Linked DNA regions of Homo sapiens. The protein of the gene in region 2 interacts with the protein of the main gene of each other region in a pairwise test. Each region holds a gene or a part of one and is shown on either strand. Other genes may lie near its edges.

Region 1 (3,753 bases), on a different chromosome or scaffold from region 2:
TTAATTTAGGGTGAGGAGCAACACATTCCTGTGATGATTCATTAGTTTCTTAATTAAAAAAAAATCCCCATGACATTTTTCAAAATAGTAAACAGTCTTCATTAGTGCATCAAGCATTGAAGAAAAATTGTCGTCTTTCCATTCGTAAAATGAAGAAGATAAAAGCCTTTCAAAATCCAGGGCGGGGGATTTCCATTGAATTTAGAGAAGTGAAATAAACTGGTAAAAACTGTATTTCATACTTTTAACAAAAGAGTATTTTCAAGACTCAAGGTAAACATTTAGACCCATAAAAACACATTTCTTGGCACATGCACGCCATGGATGGAACAATCCTGAATGCAGCGATGGCCTGGCTACAGAGGTATCCGGCTCCTAGCCCCACTGGCAAAACTGTCTTTTAGGACCTTGTCCCAGCTCCCTTCACATGGGGGTCTCTGGCTTCTGCATCAGCTGGATTTGCTTCTGTAGCTGGTCCCTGTCCAGCTTCATCTTGGCCTCGAGAACTTGCCTGAGGGATCCTATGCTTTCATAGACGGCTGTAAACCCTTGAAGGAGAGGTAAATTTCACAACAGTTAACAATTTTTTTAAAATGCTGTATCAAATTCTATAGTATCTAGTAATGGTTGATTCAGGCAAAAATTATTAATAGATGCTAAAACCTCTGGGATGAAAGTATGATGGGGAACAGGTGAGTTTCTAGTTTCTCCCTAGAGATTACTTTTTAATTACAAAAAGGAAAAAGGAACTATTACAATGGAGAAGACTGTCATATACCCCTTTAACCAAGTGATCAAATCTCACGTCACCCATACTGGGAGAAACAACATCACGTAACTTCTGAAAAGATACCCTGAGCAGGGCACAACATCACTTCTTGACATTTTTAAAGAATACCAAAATACACAACCTAAATTATATCAAGATGAAGCAAACAGGCCTGGTACGGTGGCTCATGCCAGTAATCCCAGCACTTTGGGAGGCCAAGGCGGATGGATCACCTGAGGTCAGGAGTTCGAGCCAGCCTGGCCAACACGGCGAAACCCTGTCTCTACTAAAAATACAAAAATTAGCTGGGTATGGTGGCGCACACCTGTAGTCCCAGCTACTCGGGAGGCTGAGGCAGGGAGAATTGCTTGAACCCAGGAAGCGGACGTTGCAGTGAGCTGAGATTGTGCTACTGCACTCCAGCCTCGGCGACAGAGCAAGACTCGTCTCAAAAAAAAAAAAAAAAAAATGAAGCAAACAAATCTAAACTAGGGATAGTCTACAAAATGCTGGCTGGCTGGTATTCTTTAAAAAGGTCAACATCACTGAGAAACTGATCCAGATTAATAGAGACTAAATAAAGAAACATGACAACTAAATACGATGTGTAATTCTGGATTAGAACCTGAAGGGCCAACATCACTAATTATAGGAAAAATACAAATTAAAACCACAATGAGTTATCACCTCACACCTGTTAGGATGGCTATTATCAAAAAGACAAACGAGTACAAGCATTAGCGAGGGTGTGAAGAAAGGGGAACACTTGTACACTGTTGGTGGGAATGCAGGATGGGGCAGCCATAGTGGAAAACAGTATAGGGCAGGGGTATCCAAACTTTCAGCTTCCTTGGGCCACACTGAAAGAATTGTCTTGGGCAATACAAATACACTAACACTAATGATAGCTGATGAGTGATTTAAAAAAAAAAATCACAAAAAAATCTCATAATGTTTTAAGAAAGTTTACGAATTTGGGTTAGGCTGCATTCAAAGCCATCCTGGGTCGCATGTGGCCTGCGGGATGTGGGTTGGACAAGCTTGGTATAGAGGTTACTAAAGAAATTTAAAATAGAACTACCATACGACCCAGCAATCTCACTACTGGGTATATTCCCAAAAGAAATTAAATTACTGCCTCATAAAGATATCTGCACTCCCCTGTTCACTGCACCATTATTTACAATAGCCAAGATATGGAAACAACTGAAGTGTGTCCATCAAAAAATTAGTGAATAAAGAAATTGTGTATATATACAAATGATGAATATTATTCAGCTTTACAAAAAAGGAGAGCCTGCCATTTGTCACAAATGGATAAAAATGGAGGACATTATGCTAAGTGAAATAAGACAGATACAGAAAGAAAAATACTGCACGATCTCATATGTGGAATCTAAAAAAAGAAAAGGAAGGAAGAAGGGAAGGGGAGGGGAGGGGAAGGGAAAGGAAGGGAAGGGAAGGGAAGGGAAAGGAAAGAAAGGAAGAAAGAAAAGAAAGAGAAAGAAAGGAAAGAAAGAGAGAAAGAGAGAAGGAGGGAGGAAGGAAGGAAGGAAGGAAAGGAGGGAGGGAGGGAGGGAGGAAGGCAGGCCGAGGCGGGTGGATTACTTGAGGTCAGTAGTTTGAGACCAGCCTGGCCAACACCATGAAACTCCATCTCTACTAAAAATACAAAAATTAGCTGGGCCTGGTGGTGCACATCTACAATCCCAGCTACCCGCGGGGCTGAGGTATGAGAATCACTTGAACTTGCGAAGAATAGGTCGCAGTCAGCCGAGACTGCACCACTGCACTCCAGCCTGGGCGACAGAGCAAGACTCTGTCTAAAAAAAAAAAGAAAAGAAAGAAAGTCAAAAACATAGAGAATAAAATGGTGGTTGCCAAAGGTGGGGCGGAAGAGGAGGAAATGGGGAGATGCAGGTCAAAAGATACAAATTGCTGATATGGAGAATGAACAAGACCAGATGTCTAATGTATAGCATGAGGACTGCAGTCAATAATATTGTATTGTATTTGGGATTTTTGCTAAAAGAGTACATTTTCAGGTGTTCTTGCCACACACACACACACACACACACACACACACACAGACACACACACACAAATACCTGTGAGATGATACATATGTTAACCTGCTTGAATACAGTAACTATTTCACTATGTATATATATATCAAAATATAAACATCTTGTTGTATACCTTAAATATACACAACAATTTTTTTTATTTAAAAAACATGTAATTAGAAAAAAAAAGACACTAGACTGGAAAAGGGTTGCTATAAAGGAAATAATGGCACGTTGAAAATTGAATATTAAAAAATATTTCATTGATGATACATTGTATTAAAGTTATTTATAAGAGAATATCCTTGTTCTTAGGATATATACACTGAAATAATAAAAGGGCAACCAGGCAGCGGCTCACACCTGTAATTCCAGAGCTTTGGCAGGTCAAGGCAAGAGGACTGCTTGAGGCCAGGAGTTCCAGACCAGTCTGGGCAACATACTGAGGACCCATCTCTAAAAAAATTTTTTAAATAAAAAAATGAGCTGGGCATGGTGGCACATGCCCATAGTCCTAGCTGCTCAGGAGGTCGAGGCAGGGGGCTCACCTGAGCCCAGGAGGCTGTAGTGAGCTACGATCACACCACTTCACCCCGGCCTAGGCAACAGAGTGAGCCTCTGTCTCATTCTGTCATTTTTTTTAATTTCCAAAAAAATGGAAATAATAAAGGGGTAAAAAGGCATCATGAGGCTAGGCCTGGTGGCTCTTGCCTGTAATCCCAGCACTTCAGCAGGCCGAGGCGGGAGGATCATTTGAGGTTGGGGGTTCAAGACTAGCCTGGCCAACATGGTGAAACCTTGTTTCTATTAAAAAAAAAAAAAAAAAATTAGCCGGCCGTGATGTCAGGCGCCTGTAATCCCAGCTACTCAGGAGGCTGAGGCAGGAGAATCGCTTGTACCCTGAAGGCAGAGGTTGCA
Region 2 (3,753 bases):
GAGATTCCAGTGCATCACCTGAGAAAAATAATACTGATCTTGGAATTATGTAAGTACGTAAATTGTGACCAAGTAAAAAATCATCATTTCCATCCCTTCCATTTGAGGTGATTCCATGAGGAGAGAAAAAATTGAAAAATGAATCCTTGGGAAAATCTTCAGTTACAGTTCGGATTGTTCCCCAGATCCGATGTTTCTGTTTCTTCTTGATGGTTTTCAAAGTGACATTCTTTCCTTCATTCCAATCTATCTCACAGCCTGTGGAATACTCAATCGCAGTTCCCCTATAGGGATGGGGATCATAATATGCTAGCTTTGACTTCAGCACATAGGTCTTTGTCAACAACTCATTTTTGAAATATTCATTGGGTTTGAAGTGAAATTCTAGTGTGAAACTGAGGGGCTCGCCAGGATCTGAAAGCTTAACTTTAATATCTGTCAGGAGCTTCAGAATAGGCTCATCATATTTCTTAATCAAAGGAGTGAGTGTATCAACGTTTTTTAAAACAGTTAGCCAAAAATCAGGAATTCCCTTAGGATCCTCCTCTTCTTTATTCTCTTCTCCAGTAGCCTCAATGTCGTCCTCCTCCTCCTCCTCCTCCTCCTCTTCCACAGCATAATCATAATAATAGTCCTCATAACCATCGTCCTCATCCACATATTCATGTACCATACCCTCCTCATTACCATACATCTCTTCATGACACATTTCCTCATCATCACAGTCCTCAGAGTCTGATTTATATTCACATTCCTCTTCTGTAGGTTCATAGATTGCATTGATGATCTGACGTCTTTTTTCCAGTAAGGGTTGGTACATTTCAGCAAACTTTCTTTCAATGTCATGAAATTCCCTCAGGAATTTGGATTCTAAATTGGCCGCTCTAGTTTGAAGCTTTTTAAGGGCTAACACACGGTACTTAACTTTCACAGGTAGACTTTCAACAAAGTCTGTATCTAAAACATAACCGATAAGTCCTTTTGGACGGTCTGCCTCTGAGTCCTCATCAGTATCGCCACCTTTTTTCCCATCTTCCCCGGACCCAGCAGCAGTATCTTCACCGTTTTCCCCTTCTTCCCCAAGCCCAGCGGCAGCTTCTTCACCGCACTTCCCATCGTCTCCAAGCCCAGCAGCGGCATCTTCACCGCGCTCCAGATGTTCCCCGAGCCCTTCCACCATTATCTGATTACCAGCCTCTTCTTGACTGGATTCTGACAGCTCCTTGCGGTTCTCTGACTCGGCCATTTTTCAAAGGACCGTACACGCCTAAGGTGGCTACCACAGAGATCGGGAGACCAAACCTCCACAGGAAAAGACTCACCGAAATATCAGAAGCGGCGGTGGTCGGACCTAGCAGTGGCGTCCGGACTGAGGGAACGACGATCCAGGCTGCTCGGGGATAAAAGATGGTGCTGAGGCTTTGAGAACCGGACTGAAGCAGTGGCGACCTGGGCTGGGTGCAGAGGGCGGCGACGGCTGCGTTGACCGATCCTGCAGGAGAGAGCCGGAGACTGCAGAGAGCTGCAGTGGGCAGACCTCCTCCGCAAGCAGCTACTGCTGCAAGAAAAAAACGGTGCCGCAGTATGATTACGCAGCTATCACTTGCCTAAAATTTCTAGGTGCAAATAGATTGCTGCGTCACCTCCTTCCCTCCCACAACTATGCTCTAATCTCATTTGCTGCAATGTAGTGACTGACAAACCCAGAGCCAGTAAATTATTAGATCTATCAAGTTTTCAACTCTGCTCACCTTCCCAGGCTCTCTAACATGGCTGATTCATCCACCTCCTCCTCGTCCTCTAGCCCATCTCCCGCAGAGTTTTCTGGAATCCCATTGCGTTCATTAGTTCATTCATCCAACTTTTAACAGATATTATACTTTTATGCTTTCCAGAGAGCTCAGAGAAAACGTAACTAAAATGTCGAACAATGAGAGAAGACAAGGCACCCACCCATCCTAAATCAATCTCTTTGATTTTAGATCGGGGACCTGGGGAGGGGAGAGGTGGATGGTGGAAGAGCTGATAAACAAACGCTTCAAAGATTAAAAACACCAGGAATTAGCACTGATGGTCTTTAGGTGGCGTGTCAGTTATTTAAATATTCTATATTATGTTTGTCGGTATTTTTCACAAGCTATATGATTTTAGGTTGAAAAATTCTCGAAACATTTCCTGTGAGGGGAGGAGGAGGAAGTCCGATGGCAGTGGGGGCGAATGAGGGCCTGTGATGAAAAACTAGTATGGTGTATACAACTACGTGACTAGTAAACATACCAGACAATTAACCACAATTAACCAGTTGCCTGGCTTATAAATAACCCCAGTCCCAATACTGACTTTCTGCTTCTCCTTCTTAATGCTGGCTTTAACAGCCGTTAGAAATATACATATATACAAAAGCCAAAATGGAAAGTTATGTTTATTCTTAGAAATCATAACATTTGCTTGATGCTTTTGAGTTAATTGGAAATAATCTAAATCTCAGCATTAAAGAAATGGTTAAACTATTTGATAATGTATTTATAGGATGGAAAGCTTTGCAGTAATTAAAATTTCCTCTCTATAGTAATTATTGGTGAGGTTTATTTTGTTCATATTTCTAACTTGGATCATTTATTAATTGAACAATTTTTTAAAATTTTAAGTGACTATTATTTTCCAGATTTAAAGAATTTGTTACTATCACAGATATTAAAACTGTTTACATATTGTTGTATTTATTTCTAAATTCTGTCAGTTTATAGATAAATTTTTCCTTTAAGTGAAAATACCAGATACAAAAGAACAAATATTGTATGATTCTACTTTAATTAGGTATCTAGAGCAGTCAAATTCACAGAGACAGAAAGTAGAAACATGGTTTTCAGAGGCTTGGGGTAGGGAGGAAAGGAAGTTATTGTTCAATGTGTATGGAGTTTCAGTTCAAGAAAAAGAAAATATTCTGGAGATGTATGGTGATGATGGTTCACAGCAGTGTGATTGTACTTAATGCTCCTGAAATGTAGATTTAAAAATAGGTAAAATGGTAAATATTATGTTATGTATATTTTATCATAATATAAAGTGTAGAGAAAAATATTTTAAAGACCATATTCAATATAGTACTGGAAGTCCTACCCAGAGCAATTTTGCAAGAGAAAAAAATAAAGGACATACATATTGGAAAGGAAGTTGCTAATTTATATCCTTGTTCAAAGAAGACATGATCTTATATTTAGAAAAACCTAAAGACTCCACAAAAAAACTGTTAGAACTAACAAATTAAGTAAGTTTGCATGAAGCAAAATCAACACACATAAATTAGTAGCATTTCTGTACACCAGCAGCAGACAATTTGAAAAAATCAAGAAAACAATCCCATTTACAATAGCTACAAGAAAATAATACATCTAGGAATAAATTTAACCAAAGAAGTGAAAGATCTACGCAATAAAAACTATAAAAACACTAATGAAAGAGATGAAGAGAACCCCAAAATGGAAAGATATCCTATGCTTATGGATTAGAAGAATCAATATTGTTAAAATGTTTATACTACCCAAAGAAATCTACATATTCAATGCAATCTCTATCAAAATACCAATGACATTCTTCACAGAAACAGAAAACAATATCCTAAAACTTTTATGAAACTACAAAAGATCCCAAATAGCCAAAATGATCCTGAGCAAAAAGGACAAAGCTGGAGGCATCACACTGCCTGATGACAAAATGTACTACAAAGCTGCATGGTACTGTCATAAATACAGA

What was found.
Region 1: the proteins of NAP1L2 (region 2) and FAM81A interact in binary tests that used the Homo sapiens proteins (3 or more experiments, as listed by UniProt).

The regions. Positions count from the first base shown.
Region 1 is NC_000015.10:59,518,049-59,521,801, reverse strand, and holds part of FAM81A (protein FAM81A), read right to left. Parts: intron 549-3,753; coding exon 424-548; 3' UTR 1-423.
Region 2 is NC_000023.11:73,213,247-73,216,999, forward strand, and holds the start of NAP1L2 (nucleosome assembly protein 1-like 2), read right to left. Parts: upstream 1,606-3,753; 5' UTR 1,247-1,605; coding exon 1-1,246. UniProt on the Homo sapiens protein: Acidic protein which may be involved in interactions with other proteins or DNA.